Linked DNA regions of Homo sapiens. The protein of the gene in region 3 interacts with the protein of the main gene of each other region in a pairwise test. Each region holds a gene or a part of one and is shown on either strand. Other genes may lie near its edges. The genes, in order: CFAP206, GPSM1, TASOR2 and LONRF1.

Region 1 (7,689 bases), on a different chromosome or scaffold from region 3:
AGGAGTTCAAGACCAGCCTGGCCAACATGGTGAAACCCTGTCTCTACAAAAAATACAAAAATTAGCTGGGCATGGTGGCACATGCCTTTAGTCCCAGCTACTCAGGAGGCTGAGGCAAGAGAATCACTTGAACCTAGGAGGTGGAGGTTGCAGTGAGCTGAGATTGTGCCACTGCATGCTAGCCTGGGTGACAGAGTGAGACTCTGTCTCACAACAAACAAACAAACAAAAAAACTAGTAAATTGCTTTTGTTGCTCTACATTGGTTTAAATGCATGGTCTAGCATGATAATGCTAGTCTGGCAATACGCTAGTTCCTGGTCAAGCCAACCATTCTTCAAGATCATGCTTGCTCCTGAGCTGCTGAATAATTTCCAAAGAAAATCACTTAACATGGCAAAATGCTTTCACTTTAAATTCATGATCCTGACACTCAGATGCACATTCATTACTTCTCAGTAATTACTGAAAGTTACTGAAAGTTTCTAGTAAGCCCACCCACTCTTCTACCCTCCCAGATGGTTATTTCCTATTAGCCTCTCTCCAAGGTTACCCAAGGTTCCACTTCTGACCATGATGGAATAACAAGGACTGGACTTAACTTCCTACCACAAACAACTAGAAAACTGGGCAAAATATATAAAACAACTGTTTGCTATTATTGCCCCCAAATTTCTGCCTGGAGGCAGTTTCCAGATCCTGGGCATAGAAAGGTAAACCCACTGCCTAGGGACTTTATTGAGTTGAGGAGACAGAGATCAGAGTTCACAGATGTGGAAATTGAAGGGCAAAGTTTTGGAAGGGATGAAGCTATACAAATAAATAAATAGAATTCATAAATCTGAGACTTTGCTAAGTACTTGGCTGTTCATGTATGGATTGACAATCCACACAGTCGAGCACAGAATGACCAGGGAGTATAAGCTAAATAATTCTTAGAGCTCACAGAGGATGAGAAGACATTTGAGCTCTGACCAGCCAGAGTGAAGAGTCCTCAGTGAAAACCAAGGAATTCATTGAAGACCTCTGAGCAGTTATTAATTAGTAGTAAGGTCAAATTATTTCTGGAATGAAGACTACTCTAGACCTACCCTAATAAAGCTTAAAAACAGTCCACAAATGAATCAAACTCATCCACAAATAACTGGCTGAAAAAAACAGCACAACCCTTCCTAAAGGGGGACAATTCAGACACTGAACAAGGATGCAATTCACAACGTCCAGTATTCAATAAAAAATTATTATTATTTTTTGTTGTTGTTGTTTGTTTTTGAGACGGAGTTTCGCTCTTGTTGCCCAAGCTGGAGTGCAATGGAGCGATCTCTCGGCTCACTGTAACCTCCGCCTCCCAGCTTCAAGCAATTCTCCTGCCTCAGCCTCCCGAGCAGCTGGGATTACAGGCGCCCGCCACCGTGCCCAGCTAATTTTTTGTATTTTTAGTGGAGACGGCGTTTAACTATGTTGGCCAGGTTGGTCTCAAACTCCTGACCTCAGGCGATCCACCCACCTTGGCCTCCCGAAGTGCTGGGATTACAGGCGTGAGCCACCGTGCCCGGCTCAATAAAAAATTATTAAACATGCTAAGAAGCTCAACTCATTTGAGCTTAAAACTTCTTAAAGCCTGAGGAAAAGGAAAAATATATAATTCTCTCTTTAAATGTTGAACAGTTTGTGACATATTAAAGATACTTAATCAGAAGAAATTAATTCTACAATATTCTTAAAGGCAATCTTTTAGCTTTTAGATAAAAAACATTTGATAAAATGGGTTTCACTTCTTCTAGGATGACTTCCATCACAATTCTATTTTAAGACTGTTTTATGTAGATTTGTAATCTGGTGTTTTGAAACAACATAAAACTTGGTTTCTCTTTTAACAAAACTGAGAAGAGTTCTCATGCCTTCTTTTTCTCAAGGTAAATATATCCAGTTCTCTCTATCTTATTCTGACAAAATTTTTCTTATTCTCTGGATGCACTCTGGTTCCTCCGTGTTTTTTAATTAAATGCCATTGCTGCCGTGTTAAAACTAGGAACAAATAGTTCTACAAAGACTAGAAGTCCAATAAACCATGGGAGTATAAAATATATTGTCATAGTTGATGTTGTCAATAATAACCATGATAAAGGTCATAAAATACTAGTTTCTAAAATTTATGAATCCTTTTATCTATGTCAGATGCTGTGCTAAGTGCTTCATGACGGCTATCTCATTTTACTCTCACAACTCCACGAGATAGATACCATTGTTTTGTTTTATAAATGAGAAATTTAAATCACTGAAAGGTTTATAAATGAACTCTTTCCACACTTATACTGTATAATAAGCCACTCAAAAACTCAGCGGTTTAAAACAATACTCATTCATTATCACACATCTACAGGTTGACTGGAGTTTGGCTGATCTAGGCTGGGCCCTAGTTGGGCATCTCTGCATCTTACTAAAAGATCGGTTCAGGCAATTCTGTGCCATATGCATGTGATTCTGGGACCAAAGAGCTTGCTTTGTATGTACTTCTCATGGCAATGATACAGGCACAAGAGAGAAAGCAGAAATATGGGGTCTCTTTAAGATCTTGGATCTGATTTGGCACACCGTTGCTTCACCACAACCTATTGGCCAAAGCAAGTCACATGGCTAAATTCAAAATCAAGGATTGGGGAAGTATACTCCACCAAAGTCCATGGCAAAGGTGTGGATGCTAAGAGGCATGAAGGATTAGGGAGAATAATTCAATGTAGCACAAAACGCTAAATAATACTTCCAAAGTCATACCCATTGTAGCAGTCAGGGATTCAGTTTGGCTGAATGTAGCAAAAAACCCAAATAATAGTAGCTTAATAAAATAGGAGTTTATCTTCTCTCATGCAAAGTCTGGAGATAGCCAGTCAAGAAGCTGATAGGGCTGTTCCATGACGTTACCAGGAACTCAGGTTCCTTTTTCATTTTTGTTCCACCATCCTTAAGATGTGACCCTCATGTTTATGTTCACAGCAAGGCTGCTGGAGCTTCAGCCAGCATATTCTCATTTCAAGTAGAAAGAAAAGGAAAGGCAATAGACATAAAATGGAAGTGCTTTCCCTGACACCTCATCCAGTGATTACACTTACATCTCATTGGCTAGACCATGTCACAGGCCACTCTCACTGAGAAAGAGGTTGAGAGATTTTTTTTTTTAAAAGAGAACACTGTCATTCCCAACACAGGGTTAAATTAGTAACAGAAAGAGAAGAAAACATTGACATTAAGTAGGAATTAACAGTATCAAACATACTTCAGGGAGTATTTGTGCCAGGATTTGCCCATTAGTTTAAAACTATACTTAATATGATGGTATTATTCTTACCATCTTAAAAGATATTTAATATTCTAATATATAATATATGCTCATGGAAGACATTTTGGTAGCTATCTTAAAGTATAAAGAAGACAAATCAGCCATAAGCCATTACAAAGTTACAACCACTGTTAAAATTTTGCTATCTCACCGTCCTTTGGTTGCTTTACCTTGTATACTTACAGTATATTTGTATATCTAAATTGGGTTCATTCTCTACAAATAGCCAGTCTCATCTCCCTTGTATTTTTAAATTTTGTTTTATAGATCATAAGACAATATATACTCATTATGGAAAAATCTAGAAAAAACAGAAAAGTATAAAGAAATAAAAGTAATTTACCTATAATTCCATCCTTAGATCTAATTGCTTGCTGTGATTTTGAAAAACTGACCTACACTTTTTGTGCATTATATGTATGTCAATATAGTTTAAGTCATATTATATAAAAATTTCGCATTTGGCTTTTAACAAATATAAGACAAACACAAGGTTTTTGTTAACATAATTTTAAATACCTGCCTGATATTTTACTTAAATAACGTGTTTAGATTTCTAAGGCTGTGCTATTATAAATCTTGTTACTCTGAACATCTATTTTTACACAAGCTTCTTCCACATTCCGGGAACATTTTCTAGAAGGCGGAAATAAAATTGTGTTATATTATGATGTATATTCTTGAGTTTTTGTGTTGATTCATTTCCTAGTAATCAGGGAATGTCCTTAAGCAAAGCATATTCTGCATATTTGTTTGCAGTTTGAGAAAAATTACTGTTTAAAAATAAAACCTTGTTGTTTGATGCTCTCCTTCTAATGAGTATTTAATCCTTTTTCACACTTTCACGTCTGAAGGTGGGCCTAACGATATTATCGTTAAGGGATAAAACCTCATTATTTTGACTCGGACACTAATGTGTTCTTATCATGTGCTTCTTGAATGAGCAGTTTTCTCTTCGGGCATCTTGGAGCGTTCTGTTACAGACTTCCTTTGAACAACGGGACATGAAATAAAACCTCGATACTTTTTACTTTTGTTTTTTAAAACTAGATACTTTTACAAGAACTCTATTTGCCCAGGATACAGCCCTTCCGTTTTCCCAGCCTCTCCAACTGGCTCCTCCCTCTCCCCCACCCCGCTTTCAAAGCCGCCTCATCATTCCCACGCTAGCAAGTTAATATCCTTATTTACGAGAACTTGTGTTTCACAGTCTTAACCACGGAGGTTAAGATGTCTCTGCCTGAAATTCCTTTGTTTTTAAAGTTTTTCCAGCCCATCTTTTGGGGGAAAGACCCTCAAAGTGGGACCCCGCCCCACCCCCACCTGGCCCCGCCCCCTCTGGTCCGGAGCCTTCCATCTCCATGGTTACGCGGCGGTGGCTGCGAGCGCCCAACTGCTCCGACCGTCGCGGTGAGGGCCCCAGGACAGAAGCAGACAGACACGGCTCCTGCTGTCGATTCCGATCCAGGTCAGCCTACTCGGGGCTCCGCGCCCTTGACCCGGAGGCGTACCCCGCCAGGCGGCGAGCTTGGGGCGGCTGGCGGAGCTCGGGCGGCTGGAGGACCGCGTCCTGCCTCGTCGAGACTTAGCTCTCAGTCTCGATCCTTTAGGCTGCGCCGCCGCAGAGCTGGAACAGCGGTCCATTCCTGCCGGAGGCGCCACCCCAGGGCTGCAGGGCTGCCCTCTAGCCTTTGCGCGGGTGCCTGAGGCCTCCCGCTTCTGTTTCGCTCCACTGGCTACCCCAGAAGCCGGACCTCGGGAGACTTAGTAATTGGAGGGTGGGTGCAGGGAAGGTGCTGAGCCGCGTCCCTAGCGACCCGGCAGCGGCGCGCATGCGCACACAGATCCGGAGCGCGCACACAGATCCGGAGCGCGCACACAGATCCGGAGCGCGCACACAGATCCGGAGCGCGCACACAGATCCGGAGCGCGCACACAGATCCGGAGCGCGCACACAGATCCGGAGCGCGCACACAGATCCGGAGCGCGACGGACTCTCCCACTGACTGGCACTTGCGCATGCGCTGCCTGTGATCTTGGAGTACTGATTATAAGCTGTTTTAAGCGATTCCCTTAAGCCGCGCACTGTTGTAACCACTAAAAACAGGACTAATTTAGTCCTCACACCTCTGGAAAGAAGTGAAGCAAGTGCCCAAGGTCTCACAGCTGGACAGTGGTCGGGTCACCATGGAATCCAGGCAATCTGGTTTCACTGGACAAAATGCCTAGTGCTTCGTACTCATCCATTGGAAAGCTAATAATGCTGAGGAGTTGGCTTTATCTACCTGATATTGCCTTTGTTATACTCTACATGCCAACTTCCATTGTGCTTAGTTACTGATATTCAGGAAAATCAGAAAACTCGATCAAAACCTACCACTTTTTCCTTATAGTAAATGCTTTTTTTTATCGAGAGTCTGAACTCTATTTTAGATGTGCGGAAAAGATCATTTTAATGATCTGAGCAAGAATTGTTTTCCAAGATTCTAGTACAGTTCTGAAGGGTCATTTAATGAATGTGGTGGAATAAGCATTTCTCCTTTTAAAGCTGTACTCTTGGGTTTCTCATTAATTTTACCTCCCTCCCCTACAAATACTGCTTAGCCTTTTTTTTTTTTTCCTGAGACACAGTTTCGCTCTTGTTGCCCAGGCTGGAGTGCAATGGCACCGCAACCTCCGCCTCCCGGGTTCAAACGATTCTCCTGCCTCAGCCTCCCAAGTAGCTGGGATTACAGGCGTGTGCCACCACTCCCGGCTAATTTTGTATTTTTAGTAGAGACGGGGTTTCTCTGAGTTGGTCAGGCTGGTCTCGAACTCCCGACCTCAGGTGATCTGCCTGCCTTGGCCTCCCAAAGTGCTGGGATTACAGGCGTGAGCCATCGCGCCCAGCCTGCTTAGCCTTTTTTTTTTTTTTTAATTAAGAATATCATGATAGGAATATATGTTTAGTGACCATAATTTAAATAATTGAAAATGTTATTTATCAAATGTTTCAATTATTTGAAATCCCAATCGTTGTCTGTCTTCAATAAAGTCCTTCATTTTTAAAAATAATGAAAAACAGGAGAGGCCTAGATACTAATAAAAATGCTAATAAGCTAATAGATGATATTATGACTGTTTACAAATACAATATTGCAGAAATCAAAAGAGGAAAAAAATAAATTTGCATAAAACCACGGTTTTTTTAAAAAAAATTGTTGTTTTATTTAGCCAGAATGCCTCCAACTCAGGCCGAAAGTGTTATAAGGAGTATTATACGAGAAATAGGACAAGAATGTGCAGCCCATGGAGAGATTGTTTCTGAAACTCTGATTGCTTTTATGGTAAGAAGAAATATTTTTGTGATTACTGTTTTATTAAGAGGTTTTTTAAGATGTGGTGTCCATTTTCCCCTTTAAATTCTGTGAGGCTTTCATAAATGTTTTTCAGTTGAAGCATAACGAGATAATTGGACAAATTTGTGAAAACATTTTTAAAAAGTTTATAGAGCATGTGAGTTCTAGATTTATAGAGACATTTAGAAGACCTTGATGAGTTTTGGAAACATCAATAATGTTCTCCTGTGTGGGAATTTTTTGACGTGTATTTTTGTTTGCCGTTGTTAAAAATTACTCATTGCTGTGGTTTCTCTGTTCTTGCTTTTGGTTAACAATACACAATAAAAATACAATAAAATATGCCATAGTTTCCCAATTGAAAACCTAGCCATTGCTTTCAACTTATTTCCCCATATAACTTTTCTAGCACCATATTCAAGTTTGATGTTTGTTGCTTCCTTTTTTCAACCTCTAACAAGGGTACTGATGAGTTCAGTAATAAGAAGAATAGTTGGAAAACCAACCCCAACGTAATCAAGAGGTAGTTGTTTAAAAAATGGAAACATATTAAGCTAATAATATGAAATAAAATTGCTTAATGGATTCTTTCCTAGTTAATGGACTCGTTCCTACTTTTTTCTAGGTGAAAGCTGTTGTCCTGGATCCAAGTAATGGCTTTAACATGGATAGAACCCTCATGAAAAGTGATGTGCAGAATCTTGTTAAGGTGATTACCCAACAGTCCTCAAATTTGCAATTACTTATTCTCAGTTGTAAATACAATATTTGTATTAGTCATTATTGCCTTCAGCTGCATGAAACAAAAGCCCACAAAATAGTAGTATACACGAGATATTTTTCTCATAACACAAAATCTGGAGAGACATAGACCATTCTTCCTGGCTTCCTGGGGCACACCATCCTTGCAATATGGTCATCTGGTGGTCAAAAGATAGCTACCCTGCCTCTAGGCAGAAAGAAGGGGGAAAGACAAAGGGCAAAATATGTGTGCCAATTGGGTCTATCACCTTCT
Region 2 (7,024 bases), on a different chromosome or scaffold from region 3:
CAGGGCAGGGCAGAACGGGAAGGGCTTGGGGGAGAGGATGCGGGAGTCTGACAGCACCAGGTCGGGGCCGACATGCCGAAGGCCCCGTCCGGCCTGCGGCAGGGGCAGAAGGGAGGAAGCTGAGGGCCATGGGGGCCAGCCCGGGATGGAAGCACGCCCTCCCACCACGGGCAGCTTGGCCTGAGCCTGTCGCCCTGGGTCGGGGAGGCCGTGGGGCTGCATGCCCAGTGCCTGTCCTCGGCAATGGCCTCGGGAGGACGTGGCTGTGACTGTGAGACCGGCGTCCAGGAGTGGGGGCAGGGTGGGCCTGGCGGTGGGCACAGGGCCTTAGCTCGCACCAGGCTGGCACTGCTGCTGGGGCTCGGGCGGGCCGCCTGCCCCCTGCTCCGGGCCCCCGGCGAGGTCCACCCGCTGCTCGTCCATGCGCTTAGCCTGCACCCTCTGAATGAGGCTGAAGAAGTCCTCGTCCGGCATGGTAGGGCCCCGGGGCAGTACGTCAGGTGGCGGGCAGCGCTGGTCATCGATCCTGGAGGACTGGGTGGACACAGTGCAGTTGGCGGCCTCACCCCCCCAGCCCCAGTGGTCCGGGGCTGGTCAGCAGCGGTGGTTCCAGAGGCCAGCGTGCACTGTTCACGGGCTTCCCCCTGTCCACCCAGGAAATTGGTTCTGGGGCCTGCCTCGCTCTGGGGTCTTGTGCTGGGAGCCCGGGCCCTGAGCGCAGTCTTCTGGTGGCCCCGCCACCAACCCGCAGGAGCCCAGGGCAGGCCCGCCCAGGAAAAGCAGGTCCAGCGATTCCCACTGGGCATGGGTGTGCCAGGCCCAGGAGACAGTGGCTAGGGCGGCGTTGGATGCCTGCTCCCCACATCTGCTGATCCCCAGGGACGGGCATGCGTGGCCGTCCCTCTGCCCAGCCCTGGAAACCAGCACAGCCTGGGACTGACCCTGGCAGGCCTGAGGTCTCAGCTTCCAGAGCCCGAAGTGTGGCGCCCCCCAGGGCTTCCCCTTGTGTCAGGTGGCTGACCCCGTGGGCCTCGCCTGCTCCAGTGTGCAGGCCAGGGGGCCAAGGGGTTGTCTGGGCTTCTCTGAAGCGCCTGGAGCAGGAGGGACGGGAGCTGGCGCAGGCATGCGTGTGGATGGGGGACTCTGGGCCTCTTGGGTGGGGCTGGTTTGGAGGTGGCTGGTCGGACGCCTGGCCCCGGGCCGAGGTTTCCTCTCTGCTGTGGGGAGGACGGCAGACCTGGAAACGTGCTGGCTTGGTTCGTGGTGGGCCAAGCGGCCTCCACCCCCAGCCTGTTCCCAAGTCTACGGACCCTGAACCCCTTCCCAGCAATGGCTGCACCCCACAGGGATGGCGAGACCCCCAGAGTTTGAGGTCCTAGTTGGGATAGCAGTTGGCTCAGCAGTCTCCACTCCGGCCACCCTACCTGGCTCACCCCCACACAGATGAGGAGGTCATTCCTGGCGTGGCTGCCAGGCTGGAGCCCCGGCCCTGGCTCTGCCCTCTGGGGCTGGACCCTCCGCCCATGCCGTCCACTGTGTGGTCCCTGGATGGTCCCTGTTTTTGTCCCACCAGCCAGCTGGCAGCCCTGGATCCCCCTGCCCTCCCCACTCTGGGGGTGCTATCTGGCCCGTGTTTTCCCTGCCGGGTGTGGAGGGCTGGTGGGGAATCCCTGAGGCCATGAGCTCCAGGACCTGTGACCCCCCAGCCCCCACCCCGAGTTCCTGCATGGCAGGGGGGTGGCACAGCCTGGGAGTGTCCTGGGGTTGCCAGGGGGGGTCTCTGGTGTCTCCAGCAGCCCGGGGTTCCCAGGAGTAGGGCTTCAGGCTCAGACACCCCTGGTCATGTGGTGACACTGGCTGAGTCCCCCAGGAGTCCCTCAAACATGACCGGAGATGGCAGAACCAGCGCCCACCTCACCCCTCAGGACACAAGTTGCCTCCACACACGTGGATGGCAAAGGGGCCGCGAGCCACGCCCGCCCAGGGCCGCAGCCCACCTGGTACTTGATGAGCATGTTGAAGAAGTCGTCCCCCGGCTCCTGGGGCTCGCCGTGGCCTCGGAGGTGCCCTGCATTGCTGTGGGTGATTCGCAGCCCCGGCAGGCTGCCCACGCTGGCCCGCTGGTCGTCCAGCCGGCGGCTCTGGGAGCTGGCGATGAGGTCGAAGAATTCCTCGGTCTGGGGCGAGGCCGTCATCGAGGGCTGGGCTGCGGGGGGCCAGAGGGTGAGACCTGGGACCCAGTGCGGGGTCAAGCCCGAGGCTCGGGCTGCGGCCACAGTGAGCTCTGACCTCTGAGCCCAGCCCAGCCCACTGTGCTGCTGGGGCCATGGCTCCTGGGGGAGTCTCCGCTGACCGGCCTAGGCAGCTCTCAGCTGCTCCCCCTGCTGTGGCTCCCACGCCCACCTCAGGGGCTTCCAGGGGGTGACAGGAGGAGACAGGAGGAGAACGCCAGTCCCCCACGCCCTGCCCCCTCCCTGAGACTGCCCCTGCAGCCTGAGTGTGTCCCGGAGGGCGGGCTGATGACACGCTTCCCGGGATGCTGCTCTGTGGGGGCTGCGGAGGGCGCCCTCAGTGACAGGGTGCTCTGCAGCTGGCCTGCTGGTCTGCCCCCGAAAACTCCTCACTGGAAGCAGGACGGGAGCCCTGGTCCTGGCCCCTGCAGACAAGCCCAAGGGAGGGCCCGGCTGAGGGGGGCACTCACCGATCCTGTCCTCCAGGGTGGGGGCGGCCGTGGCCTCGGCAGCCCCGGCCTGGCCATCGTCCAGGGGACAACGCTGGTCGTCCATGCGGCTGCTCTGGAACTTGGTCAACAGGTCAAAGAAGCACTCCTCGTCCGAAGACGGGGCCCTCGGGATGCTCTGGGGAGGGAGTGGGGTCACCGCAGCCAAAGCTAGCCCCGCAGACCCCCAGACGAGACCGGGGGCTGCTTGCCCAGGCCACACACACTTCTGAGACCCTGGCCAAGATCGGGACTCTAACCTGCCCCCTGTCGGCTACCCCTCCCCCAGAACGTGTCACCCACCCTCGGCACCCGGCTACCCCTCCCCCAGGACGTGTCACCCACCCTCGGCACCCGGCTACCCCTCCCCCAGGACGTGTCACCCACCCTCGGCACCCGGCTACCCCTCCCCCAGGACGTGTCACCCACCCTCGGCACCCGGCTACCCCTCCCCCAGGACGTGTCACCCACCCTCGGCACCCGGCTACCCCTCCCCCAGGACGTGTCACCCACCCTCGGCACCCGGCTACCCCTCCCCCAGGACGTGTCACCCACCCTCGGCACCCGGCTACCCCTCCCCCAGGACGTGTCACCCACCCTCGGCACCCGGCTACCCCTCCCCCAGGACGTGTCACCCACCCTCGGCACCCGGCTACCCCTCCCCCAGGACGTGTCACCCACCCTCAGCACCCGGCTACCCCTACCCCAGGACGTGTCACCACCCTCGGCACCCGGCTACCCCTCTCCCAGGATGTGTCATCCACCCTCGGCACCCGGCTACCCCTCCCCCAGGACGTGTCACTCACCCTCGGCACCCGCCGACTGCCCCGGACTTCTCCCCTCTCATGGGTGCTACCCCAGTCCAGGCCTCTGTCCGTCACCTGCCCTGGGCCAGCCTCCCCAGCCTTGGCCTGGAACACTTCCCAGACATCCCGGGAAGCCTCCCGTGCCTCCTGTCCCTGTGCCCACCACACCCTGTGTCAGCCCTGCCATGAGCTCCCTGTGTCCATGCCCTACACAGCCCTCACCGGTGTCTGCTGTGTGAATGAACTCGAAGGAATGAACCCCGCCCTGGGCCTCAGTCCACACACCCAAACAAGGGAGGCTGGAGGGCGTGGTCTCCTGTGGCCCCCCAAGGGGCCCAGCTGAAGCAGGTCCACCCCGTGACCCAGCCTCACAGGGCCTGGTCCGGGCCCCAGGGCTGAAGGGTGTTTGTGATGGTTCCAAGCCCCGTCCACCTCCCGACCGGCGCTGGCAGCCCCTGCCCGGCCCCAGCCTGTCCATCTCACGGCTGGTGGCCTCTTCCAGGTCTGCAAATGCTGGGCTCACAGCTGAACGAGTTAACAAGAGACGCAATGTTGGTGGAGATGGCACCTCCCGGGTCCCCGATGCTGCCTGGAATTCCCAATACCTGACCCCCACAGCCCAGGAGACGGACAGCTGTCTGACAGACAACTGGAATTCCCGACACCTGACCCCCACAGCCCAGGACTAGGGCTCCCGTCCTGCTTCCAGTTTTCTGCTGGACTCGGCCCAGGGCACAGGAGAGTGGGGCCTAGAGACATGTGTGACCTACCCAAGGTCATGCTGGAGCAAAAAAGAGCTGGGATTCAGACCCTTGAGCTGAGCCGAGGGCCCTGTGGACAGCCCTGTTTTAGGAGAGACCCCACCTGGCTCTGGCCCCTGGAGTCAGTCCCCAGCTGTCACGGAAGCCTGAGGTACCTCCTGTCCCTGAGGCAGACCTGAGGAGGGAGAGTTCTAGCACCCCCTTCTCCCCGCAGGGCTCTCCTCCTGCAGCCTGGCTCAGGCCTAAGGCAACACCCCCACTCCCCCGGATTCCCCAGCCAGGAGGGAGGGGAGAATTGGCCCAGTCTGTGGGGAGGGCCACATCCACTTGGGCCAGGGCTCTGGGAGCTGCAGGTCCAGGCAGAGGGTGGCACTGGGGTTGCCAGCCTGAGTGCCAGTTGGGGCCACACAGGTACCTCCCCAGGAGGATGTGGCCTCCTGGTCTAAAAGGAACTGGCTCCTGGGCTATGATGACCTAGGGCACAGCCGCGGGGGGCCTCTGCCTCTGGCCCAATCTGGACTCCCCCAGGTGACCCGGGGCCCAGGTGGACTGAGCAAGGTCCCTCCTGGGAAAGGCAGGACCCGTCAGGGGCCATGTCCCAGGCCCCATGGCAGAGCCCCTCTCAGGGTCCTATGTCGGGCAGCCCTCCCCTTCCCTGAGGCTGGGGCCAGCTGTTGAGGGGCTGATGCCTCCCTCACATGGGGGCAGGGGCCCACGACTGCAGGTGCAAAACCGTGGCTCAGTGCCTGGTACGGGGAAAGGCTCTGGATAGTTTGGGGCTCCTGGAGCCCCTCAGAAGCAGGACCCTGGGCCCCAAGGCCACCTTCCCCTGCATTTATGTCCCAGTAGAACATATCCAGTGGGACTCGGGGTTCCGCCTCCCTGCTCTAACCTCTCCCTTGCCCCAAGCCCTGGCTCCCTCCTTCCCGGAGGCCTCAGAGTCCCTCCTGCAGTCTGACTCTAGTCTCTCTTGCTTTGGCACAAGCCCAGTTTCTCCTGCGGAGGAGGGGAATGCACCCGGCCCAAGACCACCCCACCCGGCTTCACAGAGGCCCGTGTGCTCCCTCAGCCTCCACCTGTTAGGACCCCAGGGACCCCAGACTCACGCGGATCACAGGCTGTCTCCACAGCAGCAGGGAGCCACGCTGGGTGCTTGGCCACACAGAGCGCAGGCAGGACACAAGGTGCCCAGGGCCACCACCGCCCTGCCCAAAGTGCCAAGTGCTGCCTCAATGCTGGGATGCCTGAGGCTTAAATAGGACCCTGGGCAAGGGCTCGGCCCTCCTAGCGCCCGCCCCTGCTCACTTGAGTGCGTGCACACACACAGGCTCACACACACGCACGTGGGCTCGCACTCACACACAGGCGCACTCCGTAAACACTCCCCCAGCAAGTGCAGCAGTGAACCTCCCCCTCCCCGTGCCTGTGGGCGGGCACACTGGAGGGCTGTGTGGGCAGACAGCCTGCCGAAGAGCCCTTTTCCCGCTGACACCTGGGCCCCTGGGCCTCCCTCCAGAGCTGGGCCAGGTGGGGAAAGCCACCTCTTTATTCAGCCTGACTACGGAGGCAGGCGCAGAGGACCTGGGCGGGTTGCTGTCCTCATCTGGACTCCTCTGTCCGGGACGGCCCTTCCTGTCCCACAGCCCTCGGTGGCTCCCCAGTGCCCTGGCTCAAGGGCCTCCCGGCCAGCTCAACTCAAGCCTCTGGTTGCTGCCTCTCTGTCTCATTCCTGGTTGGACCTACACTGTCTCCAGCCTCTGAGGCCAACCCTGCCCTGTCCCCTACCCTCCACCCCAGAATGAGTTCTCTGGACCCCCAGACCACACCCAGCCACACCGCCTCAGATCCCAAAGCCCCGAATGTGCTGGCTGCAAGGCCCCTGCACTGTCTGGGCACAGGGTGGGGAGGGGCAGGGGCTGGTTGGTCACCAACAGCAACGGCGCAGCATCGGTGTCACCAACAGCAACGGCGCAGCATCGGTGTCACCAACAGCAACGGCGCAGCATCGGTGTCACCAACAGCAACGGCGCAGCATCGGTGTCACCAACAGCAACGGCGCAGCATCGGTGTCACCAACAGCAACGGCGCAGCATTGGTGTCACCAACAGCAACGGCGCAGCATTGGTGTCACCAACAGCAACGGCGCAGCATTGGTGTCACCAACAGCAACGGCGCAGTATTGGTGTCACCAACAGCAACGGCGCAGTATTGGTATCAGCTGCACTTTGCAGATGAGGACCCCAACTGAGAGCTGAAAGCCCTTCCCTGAGGACCCCAGCAGAGGGGGAAGGGGGCCCACCCGGCCACTGACGCCCCAGGGATGTATCCCCCACCCACCCTCGCTGCAGTCCCCATACAGGCTGCCACCAGGGTGCAGACGGTCCTTACTCGGAGGTACCCAAGGTTCTGACCTCGGTAAGGCCAGTGGGGTTCAGGTCAGCAGAAAGCCAAGAGGCCCTGCCACGTCCTCACAGACCCTGGGAACCCCGTTTGTCTGGGGCCAGGATCTTGGCTGTCCCAGGCGTCCTGCCCCGCGGTGGTTGCAGGGGCCAGGGGAGCAGGGCCCGCAGCAGGTGGGGGCTCCCTGGGGCCCTGGCCAAGGCCTCCAGAGTGCTGGGCCAGGCAGCTGGACACTTGGAACTGTGTCCCCTTGCCCTGCTGGCCCAGACCCAGGGCAGTTTGTTGGGGTGACGTGAAGCCTGGAAGCCCTCAGAGGCTGTGCTTTCTAGAAAGCCATC
Region 3 (7,018 bases):
ACATTACATTAATGGAATGGCCTTGATGCAATAAGGAGAAAAGAAATACGAATTAGAAACAATGAAGTAAAACTATTTTTATTTGCAGAAAATGTCCTAAAAAAGCATAAAGAATGCACACATGTGCAAACAAATAGCTACTGGATATAATAAGTGATTTCGGCAAGCTACAAGATATAAAGTTAATATGGAAAAATCAATTTTATTTCTATATACTAGCAACAAATTATTGCAAAAATTTTTAGTACTATTAAGAATAACATCAAAAACAAAGAGATAAATATGACAAAATATGTGCAAGAGCTGTACACTGAAAACTATAAATATTGCTGAAGGAAATTTTTAAAGACCTGAATAAGTAGAATTTGACAATTAGTAAGATGTTAATTCTCTCCCAGATTGATATGTACATTCAGCACAATCCCAACCAAAATCCCAACAGGTTGTTTTTGAGGTAGAAAATAAGCTGGTTCTAAAATGTATACAGAAACTTAAAAGACTTAGAATAGATGGGCCGGGTGCAGTGACTCATGCCTGTAATCGCAGCAGTTTGGGAGGCCGAGGCGGGTGGATCACCTGAGGTCAGGAGTTTGAGACCAGCCTGGCCAAAATGGCGAAACCCCATCTCTACTAAAAATATAAAAAATTAGCCAGGCGTGGTGGCAGACACCTGTTATCCCAGTTACTAGGGAGGTTGAGGCAGGAGAATTGCTTGAACAGGGGCTGGGGGTGGGGGGCGGAGGTTGTAGTGAGCCAAGATTGCACCACTGCACTCTAGGCTGGGCAACAAGAGTGACGTTCCGTCTCAAAAAAAAAAAAAAAAGACTTAGAATAGCCAAACATACTTGAAAAAGAACAACATTGTATACTATGCAAATTCAAACCATGACACACCCTTCAGAGTGGCTACAATTCAAAAGTATTGGCAGGGATGTAGACGAACTAGAATTATCTTTGTGGAACTGTATAACTTAGTAAAACCAGCTTGCAAAAAGTTTGAAATGATCTGCTAAAGTTGAACATATGCCCTTGTTATTGCCACAATAATGCCCTATAATAAATCACCCCAAACTCGGTTAGCTTTTGATAACAGCATTAACTTTCAGAATCCTTGATCTTCAGGATGTCTAAGGCTCTGTTAATCCAAAGTGTGTTGGACTGTGGGTTGGTGTCACATCTGTTCCACATAGGTTTGTTCTGGAGACTCAGGCTGAAGAGACAACAGCTACGCGAGATATTTTCTCCACATATGAATCACCTGAGCACAGGAGCCAACTCAAACAGCACGAGCACACTGAAGAATCCTGCTGTGTCATGTCTGCTGATATTCTATCAGCCAAAAGACCTCTCTTAGACCAAGCCCAACGTCAATGAAGTAGAGAAGGAAACTTGGCCAACCGTGGGGAATAAGGGCATAAATATTTGCAGAAACAAAAATCTAAATTATCATGTCTAGCATTCCAAAATCCCAATCCTAGGTTTTCATCCAACAGAAATGAGTGCCCATGTACACCAAGAGATGTAAATGAGAATGATCACAAAAGTATTATTTATAATAGCCAAGAACTGGACACAGCCCAAATGTCCATCAATAATACAATGGGTAAAGCAAATGTGTTACATTCACGCCTACATATACAGCAATGAAAACGAAAGAACAAGTACACCCAAAAACACAGTGAGTCTCACAAGCAGGCACAAAATTATTCACTTTATATACAGTTCAAACCACAAGCAAACTAAATGATAAAGTTTCAGGGTGCATATTTAGTTGGCAAACTTACTTTTAAAAGCAAAGAAGAGAGTACCATGGAAGTCAGAATAGTGCTTAGGCTAGGGAAGAGGGATGGGGTACTGGCAATGTTCTATTTCTTGATGGGGGTGTTGGTTTCATGAATATTTGCCTTGTGATAAATCATGGAGTTGTACATTCCGGTTTTGTGCACTATTAAAATGTTGTTGTACTTCACTCTCTACTTCCACAGTCAGCCTTCTTCTGTTCTTGAATAGGTTTCATTTCACTTCTCAAGTCCTTTGCACTTGCTTTCCCTTCTGCCTGGAAAGCTCTTCCTCCACGTATTCCAAGCTTTGGTTCTATCAGTTTTGATCTTTAGGGTTTGACCTCAGATGTGCCCATTTCAGTAAGATCTTGTAGCTCCACTACTTCTGCCCTTGGCCTCCAGCCCCCAGTCCCATCCACTAGCATTTCCAGTGAGTTTTCACAGCATGTATTGTTATCTGAGATTCTATTTTCTTGTCGTGGTGATTTACCTGTGTTTGTCACTCACCTCTGGAATAAATTCCATTATAGGCAGGGTCCTTATCTAGCTTGTTCATGATTGTAAAACCAGTGTCTATTACAGCACCTGGTTACAGTAAACAGTAAACACAATGACTGAATCTCTTGGTATTACCAGCACAGTGCTTGACTCATGATACATGTTCATTAGCACTTAATCTCTCTCATTGGTACAGTCATATGTCACTTAATGTTTCAGTTAACAACAGACCACATATCCAACAGTGATCTTATATGATTATAATAGAGCTGAAGAGTTCTATTGCCTAGTGATGTCGTAGCCATCTTAATTTCGTACAGCAACACATTACTCATATGTTTGTGGTGATGCTGGTGTAAATGAATCTACTGCACTGCCAGTCATATAAAAGTACAGCACACATGGCCAGGCGCAGTGGCTCCACCGTAATCCCAGCCCCCCAGTGGGACAAAATGGAGGTGAAGACAATGATGTTGATGATCCTGACCCTGTGTAGGCCCAGGTTAATGTGTGTTTGTGTCTTAGTTTTTAACAAAAAAGTTTAAAAAGTAAATTAAAAAAATTTTTAAATAGAAAAAAACTTACAGATTAAGGATATAAAGAAAATATTTGTGTACAATGTGTTTGTTTTAAGCTAAGTGTTATTACAAAAGAGTCTTAAAAAGTTTTTTAAAAGTTTTAAAAAGTTAAAAAGTTACAGTAAGCTAAGGTTAATTATGAAAAAATTTAAAAAAATAAATTCAGTGTAGCTTAGGTGTACAGTGTTTATAAAGTCTACAAGAGTGTACAGTAATGTCCCAGACCTTCACATTCTCATTGCTCACTCACAGACTCACCCAGAGCAACTCCCAGTACTGCAAGGTCCATTCGTGAGAATGCCTTACACAGGTGTACCATTATTTTTCATACTGTATTTTTATTGTACCTTTTCTATGTCTAGATATGCTTATACAAATACTTACCATTGTGTTATAATTGTCCACAGTATTCAGTACAATAACATATAGCATGGGTTTGTAGCCAGGAGTAATGGGCTATGGCTTATGGTGTAAGTATGTAGTAGGTTATGCTTCTAGGTTTCTGTGATGTTCACTCAAGGACCAAATTGCCTAATGAGGCATCTCTCTCATAAGGTGTCCCTACAGTTAAATGATGTTTGCATGACTATTTATCATGGGCAAGGGTAAACCTGAATTTATTGATGGTCACCTTAGCTCTCTGTGCATGTGTTATAAATTTCTAGAGATGCTTTCCTAGGGGGTAACAGCCACACCTACTATATGGATTAAAACAAGGGCAAAATTTCCAAAATGTCGCATTCGGGCCAGACAAATAAACTGTTCTTGCAGCAGCACCTGGGGAATGAAACGCTGAGAAGGGAGAAGGCGCCCGAAGGCGACCACGTGGGCCACAGCCACAGCACTGTAGGTCAGCCGAGAGAGCGTCTCCCGCCTCTTCCCAAGGGCATCTTCCGCCTCCTGTCAAGGGTCGGCAACGCGAGACACCACGCGCTCGTTGGGATCGGCCGCCTAATCAGGAGCGAGCTGTGGCCTTACGCCTGCGCAGAGGGGAGACGCGAGCGCCGCGTGGACGCTGACCTCGGTCCGCGCCTGCGCCTTGGTTTCTTCCCGGCGATTGGTTCCCATCTCTGAGGGAGACGCCTCACTTCAGTTTTCACTTTCTTTTTTTGCCCCCCCCTCCCCTTTTCTTTTCCTTTGGCCGCGAGGTTTTGCTTCCGGTTGCTAGCGCCGGTCAGAGAGAAAGTCGGCATGTTCTCGCAGGCTGCCGGGCGTCCCGGGGTTGCCTCTTGCCCGTGACCCTGACGGGAGACAGAGCGCGGGCGGCCGCGGCGTCCCTGTCAGCGCCCGCGGCGAGGACCCCGGGGCTGGGGCGGACGGCGTGCCCCTGAGGGGGGTCCCCGCGGGAGCGCGGAGCCGGCGACTGGTGCTTCCCACGTGCGCCGGTGTCGCGAGGGCCCGGGAGGACGCAGAGCACGGCCGGGAGAAGCATGGGAAGGAGGCCGAGCCGGGATCTCAGGTCCTCGGGGGCGGCGGCCACGCCAAGGACGGGTAAGTCCCTCCTCGGCCTGGGCGCCCGGGAACCCTGCGAGGAGGACGGCGGGTCCCCGAGGCCGAGCGCTCGGGCAGCTGCCGGGGCTTGGCTGCGAGGGTCGACGCGTTCTCCTTGCCTTTTGCCGCGCTCCGGGTGAGGGGGTGGGAGGGGTCGGCGCCTTCTAGATGACTCAACCTTCTGTCCTGCGCTACAACCTGTGGCCGCGCTCGGTGTCGCCGGCAGGGAGATCCTAACCGTGTCATCTTGCCCCTTTCTGAGGCGTTTCGTTTGCGTCGCCTGTCAGGGGACAGCTGCGTCCTCAGGGATATGCTGATAAGTTCTTGGCTGAAGTTTCCGTCTTCGGGTTTGCACCGGCTGGGAAATCATTTCCTGCGGGTTCTGCGTGAAGCCTGCTGCTACTCGAGACTTCATGGCAATGCGCCACCTTTTCTTTTTAGGGTAAAACAGGTCTCTCCGAAGGGAGGGTCATTTCAGCAGCAAGCGCAAGCCGCGTTGGGATAACTTGGTGCGAGCAACACAGAAGTTTGTCTGAAGGCGGCGCCAAGCAGCGTTTCGTGGGAGAACTGGGTTGATGACTGAAATTTTGAGGAAGATTACTTTGGGAATTCTCAAGTTTCTCTTAGTCGCTTCTTGTCTATTTGAAATCTGTAACTTTAAACAAACCACGCTTACTCTTCCTTATTCTCCCTGTAAGGTACAATTAGAATAGAAAAGTTTATGAAAGTGTATCCAAAACTTAAATATGTGGCGTACAAGTGTATGGTATTATTGGAATGGCATTCGCGATCCTAGAGTCTACAGTGTTCCCTGAATAAAACTAGGGGTGAGCCTGGCGGTAATCCTGCCTAGGAGGTTTATAGCAAAGCAGTGTCCCCTAACGGTGCAAGAATACCCTTCTGTCGAAAAACTGCCTTATAGGAATGGGTGACTGTATGCGGTATGTCCTGTACTGTACATCAATAAATAACTAAGCCAGGCCAGAAAAAGGGTGACAAAAGGTCCACAATTATGTTAAGGAAGACCAAGACGGTATATTTGAAGTTTTGTGTATACAGAACATTTGCCCAAATGTAACTAATTTTTTTAAAGGGAGATTATAAGCATCTCCTGTGGTCCAAACATAGTTGTTAAAATGGGTTAAAATCGGTGAAGTGCCTAAGAACTTGACTGAGACATGGTGTTTGTTAAATACAGTATACTATCTATTCAGTAAAAATAGATCAATATGGCATGTATTTATCAAGTGAATTTCATTTTTCTGTTGGTAGACATTCAAGTTATTTTCAAGATATCCCTATAACTGACAATACTGCAGTGATTATCTCTTGCTGTTATAAACAGTGCTTCAGGTGGTCATGATAGTATTTCTGTAGAATTGACTCCTTATGAGAGTGCTGGATAACCATGTTGCTAAATTGCCCTGAAATGATTGTACCTTTTTATGTTCACTCGCTCAAAAGATGTGTTTTTATCTCCATGCTAGCCAGCACTGGATGATAATGGTATTTTTAAAATATCTTAGCCACCTAGTAATTGAAAGTAACATTCTGTTTTAATTTTTATCTTCCTTGGTGAATACAAAAGTTAAATCTTTTTAGGCAGGTCATATCATTTGCTGATGTTTTTATTGAGTCTGAGCTCTCTTTTCTTTCGCCCATGTAACTATTACTGTAGCATTTTAATTATCATAGTTTTATAATATATTTTGGTACTTTCTTTTGAAAAAGAGCTTTGGGTTTTTCTTTTGCATTTTTTCTTCCAGAAGAAATTAAAACTATCTTTTTAAGTCCTATAGAAAATCTTGGGATATTGTTTGTGATGGTGTTGAATATATAATCTGAGAAGAGACATTTATTTGAGTTTTTCCTTCTAAGAGAATATGTACATCTCCCTTTTCTTTAAAAATTTTTTATTGTGAAATATGTCATTAATATGTACTGACAAAGCGTATCTGTGTAATAAATATGCTTTTTGTCAGTACATGTTAATGGTATATTTCATAACAAAAATTAATAAAAGCTTTAGAAACTTTAGTTAGTTTGGAAACCTTTTGTGTGTTTCTACCCCAGGAGGAATGCGTTCCCTGCCCCCCGTTACCCTGGCCATTATTAATTTTGTGTTAATTATTCCCTTGCCTTTTTAAACAGTTTTATCACCTATATAGATATCCTTAACTAGCATTGTTTACTCTTACCTGTTTTTGAACTTTATTTAAATAAAGTCATTCTGTATTCTATGAGTTACTTTTGTTAAACATTGTTTCTGAGATTCACTCATGTTAAAGCACGTGCCTATAGTTTAGCAATTTAGAAACTTTATTCCCAGGACCCCTCTACACTTTTTAAGAACCATTGAGGGGGCCAGGTACGGTGGCCCACGCCTGTAATCCCAGCACTTTGGGAGGCCAAGGCAGGTGGATCACTTGAGGTCAGGAGTTAGGGACCAGCCTGGCCAACATGGTGAAACACCATCTCTACTAAAAATACAAAAATTAGCCAGGTGTGGTGGCAGGTGCAGGTAGTCCCAGCTACTCGGGAGGCCGAGACAAGAGAATCACTTGAACCTGGGAGACAGGTTGCAGTGAGCCAAGGTTGTGTCACTCTACGGCAGCCTGGGTGACAGAGTGAGACTCCGTCTCAAAAGACTGCTGAAGATCCCAAAGATCT
Region 4 (7,013 bases), on a different chromosome or scaffold from region 3:
GGAAAAAATAAGCTAATGCAGTGAAAGTCAGAAGACTTGGGTTCTATTCCTGCAAAAGTAGAATGAAGTTGCTAAGTGGGCAAAATCCTCATGTGCAATCTATGCAACTTGAAAAAAAGAGAGATTACATCTTTCAGAGCCTTTTCCTGTTAAACATAATATCCTCGATCCAAGAACCAGAATCTCTGTTAACTAAAATATTATTGGTCACAGAATGTTAAGCTAGACCTCAATTATCAAAAGTGCTCACTGTTCTTCCATGGACCAGGACCTGGATTCTTGTGAAACCCCTAATTCAAGGTCAGATCACTAAATCAGCAGTACTGTCCATAAGGTTCAGCCTCAGTGACCAAAAAAACTTCCTTGGATATGTATACTAAACATGTGCTATAAGGCAGGATGAACCCTAGACCAACGTTTAGGAGAAGCGGAAGATACAGCACTGCCTCTCTACCAGTTAACAGTGTGACGGTGTGCAAGTCTTCACTGCCTGGCATCTGCTTCCTCGCTTTAAAAATCACACCATGGTCAGTTACTAGGTGGTCTGTACAACTGAGTCCAGTTTCTCTTCTCTTTATTCACCCAGAGAAGCAGAGTCATGTGTATCAGAATTCTGTATTCCAAATACTTTTTTTTTGTTCTGAGCCTACCTTTCTATTTTATACCTGCCTACTCCTCACGAAGGCACTGAAAGAATACAAAAATCTCCGGGGTTTGTGCTTCGAACTCTAAAGATACTAAACAACACAAGATCTTGACATTAGTTCAATATGACTAAGCACTTGGGACAAAAGATGACCCGAAAGATGATCCTTTCAGTTACACAGTCTATAAATTTACCTGTAATACCTAAAGTCAGTTGCTATTCTAGATGTCTGTTTTCTTGGGGATTATTCCCCTATCATTTCATGCCAATGGATAGACACTAAGATCTTGAAATACGCGTAACACAAGGTTTATCAACAGTGGCACTTGGGGCCTGATAATTCTTTGTTGTGGGAATCCTGCTGTGCCTAGTAGGATGTCTGAGCAGCACCCCAGCCTCTCCCACTAGATGTCGGTACCAGCACCACCCCCACAAGAGGTGGCAACCAAAAATCTCTCCAGATATTGTTCTAAATAATGCCCCCTGAGAGAGGGGAGATAAAATCCCCCTGGTAGAGAACTACTGATTTATATAGAACAACTCTTCCTTTTACGTAAGAGAAGCTTGAAACTGCCCCCTTTCAGCGCCTAAAACCACCTTAAGAAGAAAGTGCTAACCTAGGTTAGGAGGCCGAGGCTGCTTCTTGGAGACTAAGAAATGCACTCAAGACCTATAAGGCCTTTCCCCACAGCCTGATCCTAAGTGGAAAGGCCAGGAGAAGCGTGGCAGAGAACTATGGATCAGGCAGCCCCTCTCATCTTTACCATAAGCTAGGTGCACTGCAAAGTACATAGGAAATAAGCAGGATCTGAAACAGGCCAGCTGAAACTTTCAAGAGGAACCAGTTCAGGCATTTCCAGGTAGCAAGGGACCACCCTGGGCAGCTCCGCCCCAAGCCCCAAGCCCGGCGGCCTGCAGGGCCTCCCGGGGCCGGGCGCCCGCGCGGAGCTCCCGCCACGCCCACCGGACGTCACCCGTTACACAACGCCCCCCGCCCCCAGCTTATGCAATTCTGCCCTCCCGCGGTTCCCAATTGTCCCGGTGACTTTTGTGGGTGAGGAAGGGAGACGCCGCCTGCCCGGCCTAGTTGCCCTCGCGGGGGATTCTCTCCCCGCCCCGGCAGTCGTTTCCCCGCGGCGGGCCCGGCCCGAGAGCCAATTCCCGGAAAGCGCGCGGCAGGAAGCGAGCGGCCGCTCGGGATAGCCCAGCTACCACCCATCCCGCGCCGGGGCGGCCTCGGTCCAGGTCACCCACTCCGCGCCGGGAGCGCGCGCCCGACAGCCAGGCCGCGGCCGAGGGAACCCCGCGCCGAGCGCCCCTCCCCGCGCCGCGTCACAGTCGGCTCCCAGGGCGATCCCCATTATGACCGAAGCACCCCGGGGCGCCGCCCCCTCCCACACCCCCCAGCACCCCGAGACCCGACACGCCAGCGGCCCAGCGGCCCCGGGGAAGCAGAGGAGACTCTCGGGGCGCAGACAAGCTCCGGGTCCCCGGCCCTCGGGGCCAGGAGGGTGCGGTCGGCCCGGCCCCGCCGCATCCCCGCGCGGTCACCTGCTCGCAGCGCCTCGCAGGCGGCGGCCAGGGCCTCCCGGTAGCGCCCCTGGTGCAGTAGCTCCCCGAGCCTGCCGGCCGCCCGGGCCCGCTCGCGCTGGCCCGGAAACCACTTCTCGGCCAGGTGGTTGAGGACGACGCTGGTTCTGAAGTCTGAAGCGGCGATGGCGGCGGCCAGAGGCGGCGGCCGCGGGGCGGTCCCTTCAGCATCAGTGGCACTGGCGGTGGCGGGCGGCAGCCGGTCCCGGCAGAGGCGGCAGCGGGCGCGGAGTTCCCTCCGCAGGCAGCGGCGGCAGTAGCTGTGGCCACAGGGCACGGTCACCGGCTCGCTCAGGAAGCCCCGGCAGCCCAGGCATCTGAGGAGCCCGCCGGCGCCGCCGTCAGCGCCTGCAACCGGGGCCGCGCTCCAGCCCAGCCCGTGGCGGAGCCGGTAGTTGAACACCAGGCAGTCCACCAGGGCGCCCAGGCACTCGGGCCTGGCCGGGGCCCCGCGGCGCAGCGCCGCCGCGAACGCCTCCAGCGCGCCCTTCAGGTGGCCGCCCAGCGCCAGCAGCTCCCCGCGGCGGAGCAGCAGCTCCCAGCGCTCCGACTCCGCGGCCGCGCGCTCCAGCCGATGGCCGCTGCCGCCGCCCACTTCCCAGAACCGGCCTCGGCCCTGCGGCGCTGGGGCCATCTCCCGACTCCCTCCTGGGGAGGTCCTCGCCACCGCCGGAGAGGACATGGCCCGCGGAGGGCTGCGCCGCCGCCGCCCGCCGCCACGGTCCCGGAGCCTCCCGGGCGCGCGGCTCCGCACGCGGCCCGCGAGCAGGGGGGCGTGGCGCGCGGACACGGCGGGGCTGCGCGCGCCCGGGAAGCCCCGAGGGCGGGGCCTGGCGAGGGCGGGGCCGGGCTCGGCGACGGCGCCCGGGACTCCCCCACGCCGCCCGCGGCCGCGCTCCCGAGGAGCCAAGCGCTGGGCCCCGCCCCTTCCGAGCCCCCTCCGGGTGGGGGACGCAGGTCGGATGATTCCTCCGTCGGAGATCTAATTGGCTTCTCCGGAAAGGAGGGCTCGGCTCGTGACGGAACAAAGCCGGAAGGACCCCGGAGCTTCAGTCCCCGCTTGCCTGTCTGCCAACGCCGCCACCTGCGGTGGCCCTCGCCCCTGCCGGGGGTTGGGGGACGCTCCCCTGCCGCGCGGGACTCCGGGTCACCACCCCTCCCCCGACGCCCCCGCCCAGGCCGGACCTGCCCCAACTCCTGGCGGGCGGGGGTCTCCCCGCGTGGCCTCGCGCTTGTGCGGGTCTGCATTTTCATAGCTCTACGCCCATGTTCCAGGTGGGCGCGCCCAAGCAGGGGGCCTGGGAGCGCACCTTCGGCAGATGACTGGGACTCTTCGGTTCTAGAGGACTCAACTTTAAATATGAACAAAAAACCCACGTTCCTGGGGCGACTCCCTCCAGAGGGCAAGGAGTTTTTCCTGGTGCCAGGTGACTGCTTGCCCGTCTTGCTTAAAACTCATCGTGGGCCCACCTCGAGGGAGAAAGCCCACAGCTTCCTCAGGTGTCTCCACACCTCAAGCACTGCCTTACAGCTGGTTAAGGTCTATATTTGGCAGTTTTAAAAGAAAACACCAAGAAACATGTTTCACATGGCGGTCACCGTATTACTACAACCCAAGCTGGCTCTGCAGTTTTGCTGACAGAAGAAAATGATCGGGTTGATATATAATGGGTGCTATTTCCCTTAAACTTCACAGCAGCAAGTTTAAAGCTCTCAGCTGAAAATACAGATTTGATGATAGGGTATTAGATCGCTAATGTTGGAAGTCACTTAGGACTTTTAGTCCTTTTTCAAATGATTGGAAACACAGGGAAAGTTATTTGTCAAAAATCACACAGCTAATACAGATTTTAAGATCACGTCTATTCCACTACTACTACGTTAGACTAATATGTAATATTTAATAAAATATGTAATATTTCATAGAAATATATGAGATTTTCAAAGTAAAAGAAGTTGCTAATTGGAAAGTTCACCTGAGCATGCTATGTATGAAATTGGTAAACGTTTAATATTTCTCTTTATAAGGAACAGGCAATTAAGGCTAAAAAATGTTTTGAGTTCATGTGTTTTCACTACACAATCAACAAGTCGTGTAACGTCAGAAAAGACAGAGTTATATTACCCTAAAGGGAATGAATAAAAAAGAGGTGCCTGAGAAAAAGCCAAGCCTCCTGTTCCAACAGGATGCAGACAGAAACAAGTTCATTTATCACTCACATTGCACCTGAAGCAAATTGCAGCTAGATCCAAGGAGCACCTCCTAAGCATTTGGCATGGGAAGCATTGGGATTAAGTCATGAGCATAACCTTAAATCCAATCCTAACCCCTAAATTACTACCTTAACAAGCAGAACAGTGACTTTCAGCTGATGTCCACATACTCCCTTGAGACTTGAAATCACAAACAAATATCCATGTGTACACGCACATTCATTTTTGTAACGCATCCTTGTTCTTAATGGCATGTTGCAAAATTTACAACAGTAAATATGTAATCAATGTGTTCATGTTTATTACAAGGAGCATAGTAAATTAATAAACACTCATAAACTTCTTTTCAAATATAAAGTCAGGTTCTATTATGGGATTTCTGCCAAAAGTACAATATGTGGTTCAGAAAATAATGTGAAGTATTATTTGTCCTTTGGAGTTCCTTTTCCTAATAAATATGACAACCACATCTGATTCTGATGTGAAATAAAATGGCACAATTATGATAATGTGCGGGAGAAAAAAATGGGACCGTAGGAGGAATCTTACCGTGTTCTCCTTGGCATTTGTGAATGGTTATAATTCATGTTTGCTGGTTTATGCATTTACATAACTTGTTCTCATTTATGTAACTTATTTATGTAAGAGGCTGTACTGCCGCTGTGGCCTTTGTGTGCTGCATAACTTCCCTTTGAATCAGGAAGTCTAGGCAAAGCAGTCACTGGCACTGTCACAGGTCACCCTTCCATCATTCTCTGCCATCCAAAAGTTGCACAATAATGTGACTGCTTGTTTAAATTCAAAGGCGAGAAAAATTAGTGTCCTTCTTCGTTCATTTCCTAAAATTTAGACAGGTCTCTGAGTCACCCAGCAGGCTGTGATGGAGAAGAGGGAATCCTGCTAAGCTGCCCCTGGCTAGGAGAAGTATAATGGAGTGAAGAGCTCTCCTTTTCCTTCCGCATTACTTGCTCGTGTCATTCTTTGCTAACAAAGTAGTAAAATCATGAGATTTGTATTCTGTTTCGGTTTTTGAGTGTTGTCTTCTAAAATAGATCAGTTATGTAAGAGAGTCAGAAGAAAAGCGTATCTGTTTCCTAATTTGGAAAATGCTTATCACCATCATTGCCTGCTTATCCCTGCCTCCCACTGCCACACCATAAGACTTTTCCTGATATAGTTTGGTAAACTCCTATTTAAGAGTAACATAACACAGTGCTTTTCTTATATACAACTCAGCTGAAGATGTGTATTTGAACCTCTTTTTTTTTTTTTTTTTTTTTTTTTTTTGCTGTGGGTGAATTTACCATTTGTTTCTTTACATTCTTATTAAAAAAGAAACTGAATTTGTCAGTCCAAGCAAAATATGTCCCATTCCTGATTCATTTCAGTTGATAATGTTCTATTCAAAGAGAGTAAACTATAACGTTTTATATAAACAGTACCTAGCCAATAGATTTTTTTTTTTTGACACAATCTAACTTTGTCACCCAGGCTGCAGTGCATAGTGAGTATATAGCTCACTGCAGCCTTGACCTCCTGGGCTCAAGCAATCTCCCACCTCAGCCTCTCCGAGTAGCTGGGACTACAGACGCATGCCTCTCTGCTCAGCAATTTTTTTTTTTTTTAACTTGTTGTAGAGGCGGGCCCCATTATGTTGCCCAGGCTGGTCTCAAACTCCGGGCCTCAAGCAATTCCCCTGCCTCAACCTCCTAATGGGCTGGGATTAGAGGCATAAACCACCACGCCTGGTCCCCAATAGCATTTTTGTACAGAATACACAGATGGAGGGGTCTCTAGAGACCACCTTTTCATACCCCTCTCTCTCTCTCTCTCTCTCTCTCTCTCTCTCTCTCTATATATATATATATATATATATATATATATATATATAAGAAAATTGGGATCTGAGAAGCTGCTAGTTTCATAGAAGTCATACCAGCGAGGGAATCCAGACACCTGGTGCTGACTCTATTTATGCCTCTATGCCAGGGAAGAAGTCACCTGGGTTCCCTAGGCCTCATTTGCTATCTGTAGAAAGAGGGAACTGCAACTACCTCTAAGGTGCCTTCTGCCTCTGGAGCCAAGCCCCAGGGCTTGGTTTGAACACAGTAAGAGGAGGCAGAGCATCTCCCAGACTGAGGAACACAGCAATGTGATACCTGCTGAAAATGTAACAGCAGATGAGGGCTGAGAATAGAAGAGAAGGGTATCAAGAACACATTTTGTTGGTACATACTCATCCCTGTTTAGAGAGGGGGAACCAGTTTCTGAGACCTGAACACCTGCAGTCACTGTACAGGGATCCCCTATTGCACTCACACCTCCTTGCCCCTACTGTAAAACTGTGGGAAGCTGAAAGAAAGCCGGGGGTGGGGGGGCCGAGGGAGAGCTGATTATATAACTTGGGCATTTGTGCGAAAGTTTATATAAGATGCTAAAAATACCATATATGATTGCTATAATAGCGTTCCAAATGAAAAGCCCTAATGAGGACAACCTGAGTAGGTTAAATAGAGCTGATACGAAGTGTAAGTCTAAAGCCAATTGCCTGCAAGGACTACCA

What was found.
Region 1: the proteins of TASOR2 (region 3) and CFAP206 interact in binary tests that used the Homo sapiens proteins (3 or more experiments, as listed by UniProt).
Region 2: the proteins of TASOR2 (region 3) and GPSM1 interact in binary tests that used the Homo sapiens proteins (3 or more experiments, as listed by UniProt).
Region 4: the proteins of TASOR2 (region 3) and LONRF1 interact in binary tests that used the Homo sapiens proteins (3 or more experiments, as listed by UniProt).

What each region holds. Positions count from the first base shown.
Region 1 is NC_000006.12:87,403,286-87,410,974, forward strand, and holds the start of CFAP206 (cilia- and flagella-associated protein 206), read left to right. Parts: upstream 1-4,686; 5' UTR 4,687-4,804; intron 4,805-6,549; 5' UTR 6,550-6,554; coding exon 6,555-6,662; intron 6,663-7,299; coding exon 7,300-7,383; intron 7,384-7,689. UniProt on the Homo sapiens protein: Essential for sperm motility and is involved in the regulation of the beating frequency of motile cilia on the epithelial cells of the respiratory tract. Required for the establishment of radial spokes in sperm flagella.
Region 2 is NC_000009.12:136,351,524-136,358,547, reverse strand, and holds part of GPSM1 (G-protein-signaling modulator 1), read right to left. Parts: intron 5,513-7,024; exon of another isoform or gene 5,393-5,512; intron 3,767-5,392; exon of another isoform or gene 3,526-3,766; intron 2,859-3,525; coding exon 2,702-2,858; intron 2,207-2,701; coding exon 1,998-2,206; intron 535-1,997; coding exon 328-534; 3' UTR 1-327. UniProt on the Homo sapiens protein: Guanine nucleotide dissociation inhibitor (GDI) which functions as a receptor-independent activator of heterotrimeric G-protein signaling.
Region 3 is NC_000010.11:5,680,828-5,687,845, forward strand, and holds the start of TASOR2 (protein TASOR 2), read left to right. Parts: upstream 1-4,010; 5' UTR 4,011-4,348; intron 4,349-4,789; exon of another isoform or gene 4,790-6,588; intron 6,589-7,018.
Region 4 is NC_000008.11:12,752,503-12,759,515, forward strand, and holds the start of LONRF1 (LON peptidase N-terminal domain and RING finger protein 1), read right to left. Parts: upstream 3,025-7,013; 5' UTR 2,919-3,024; coding exon 2,198-2,918; intron 1,947-2,197; exon of another isoform or gene 1,439-1,946; coding exon of another isoform or gene 1,411-1,438; intron 1-1,410.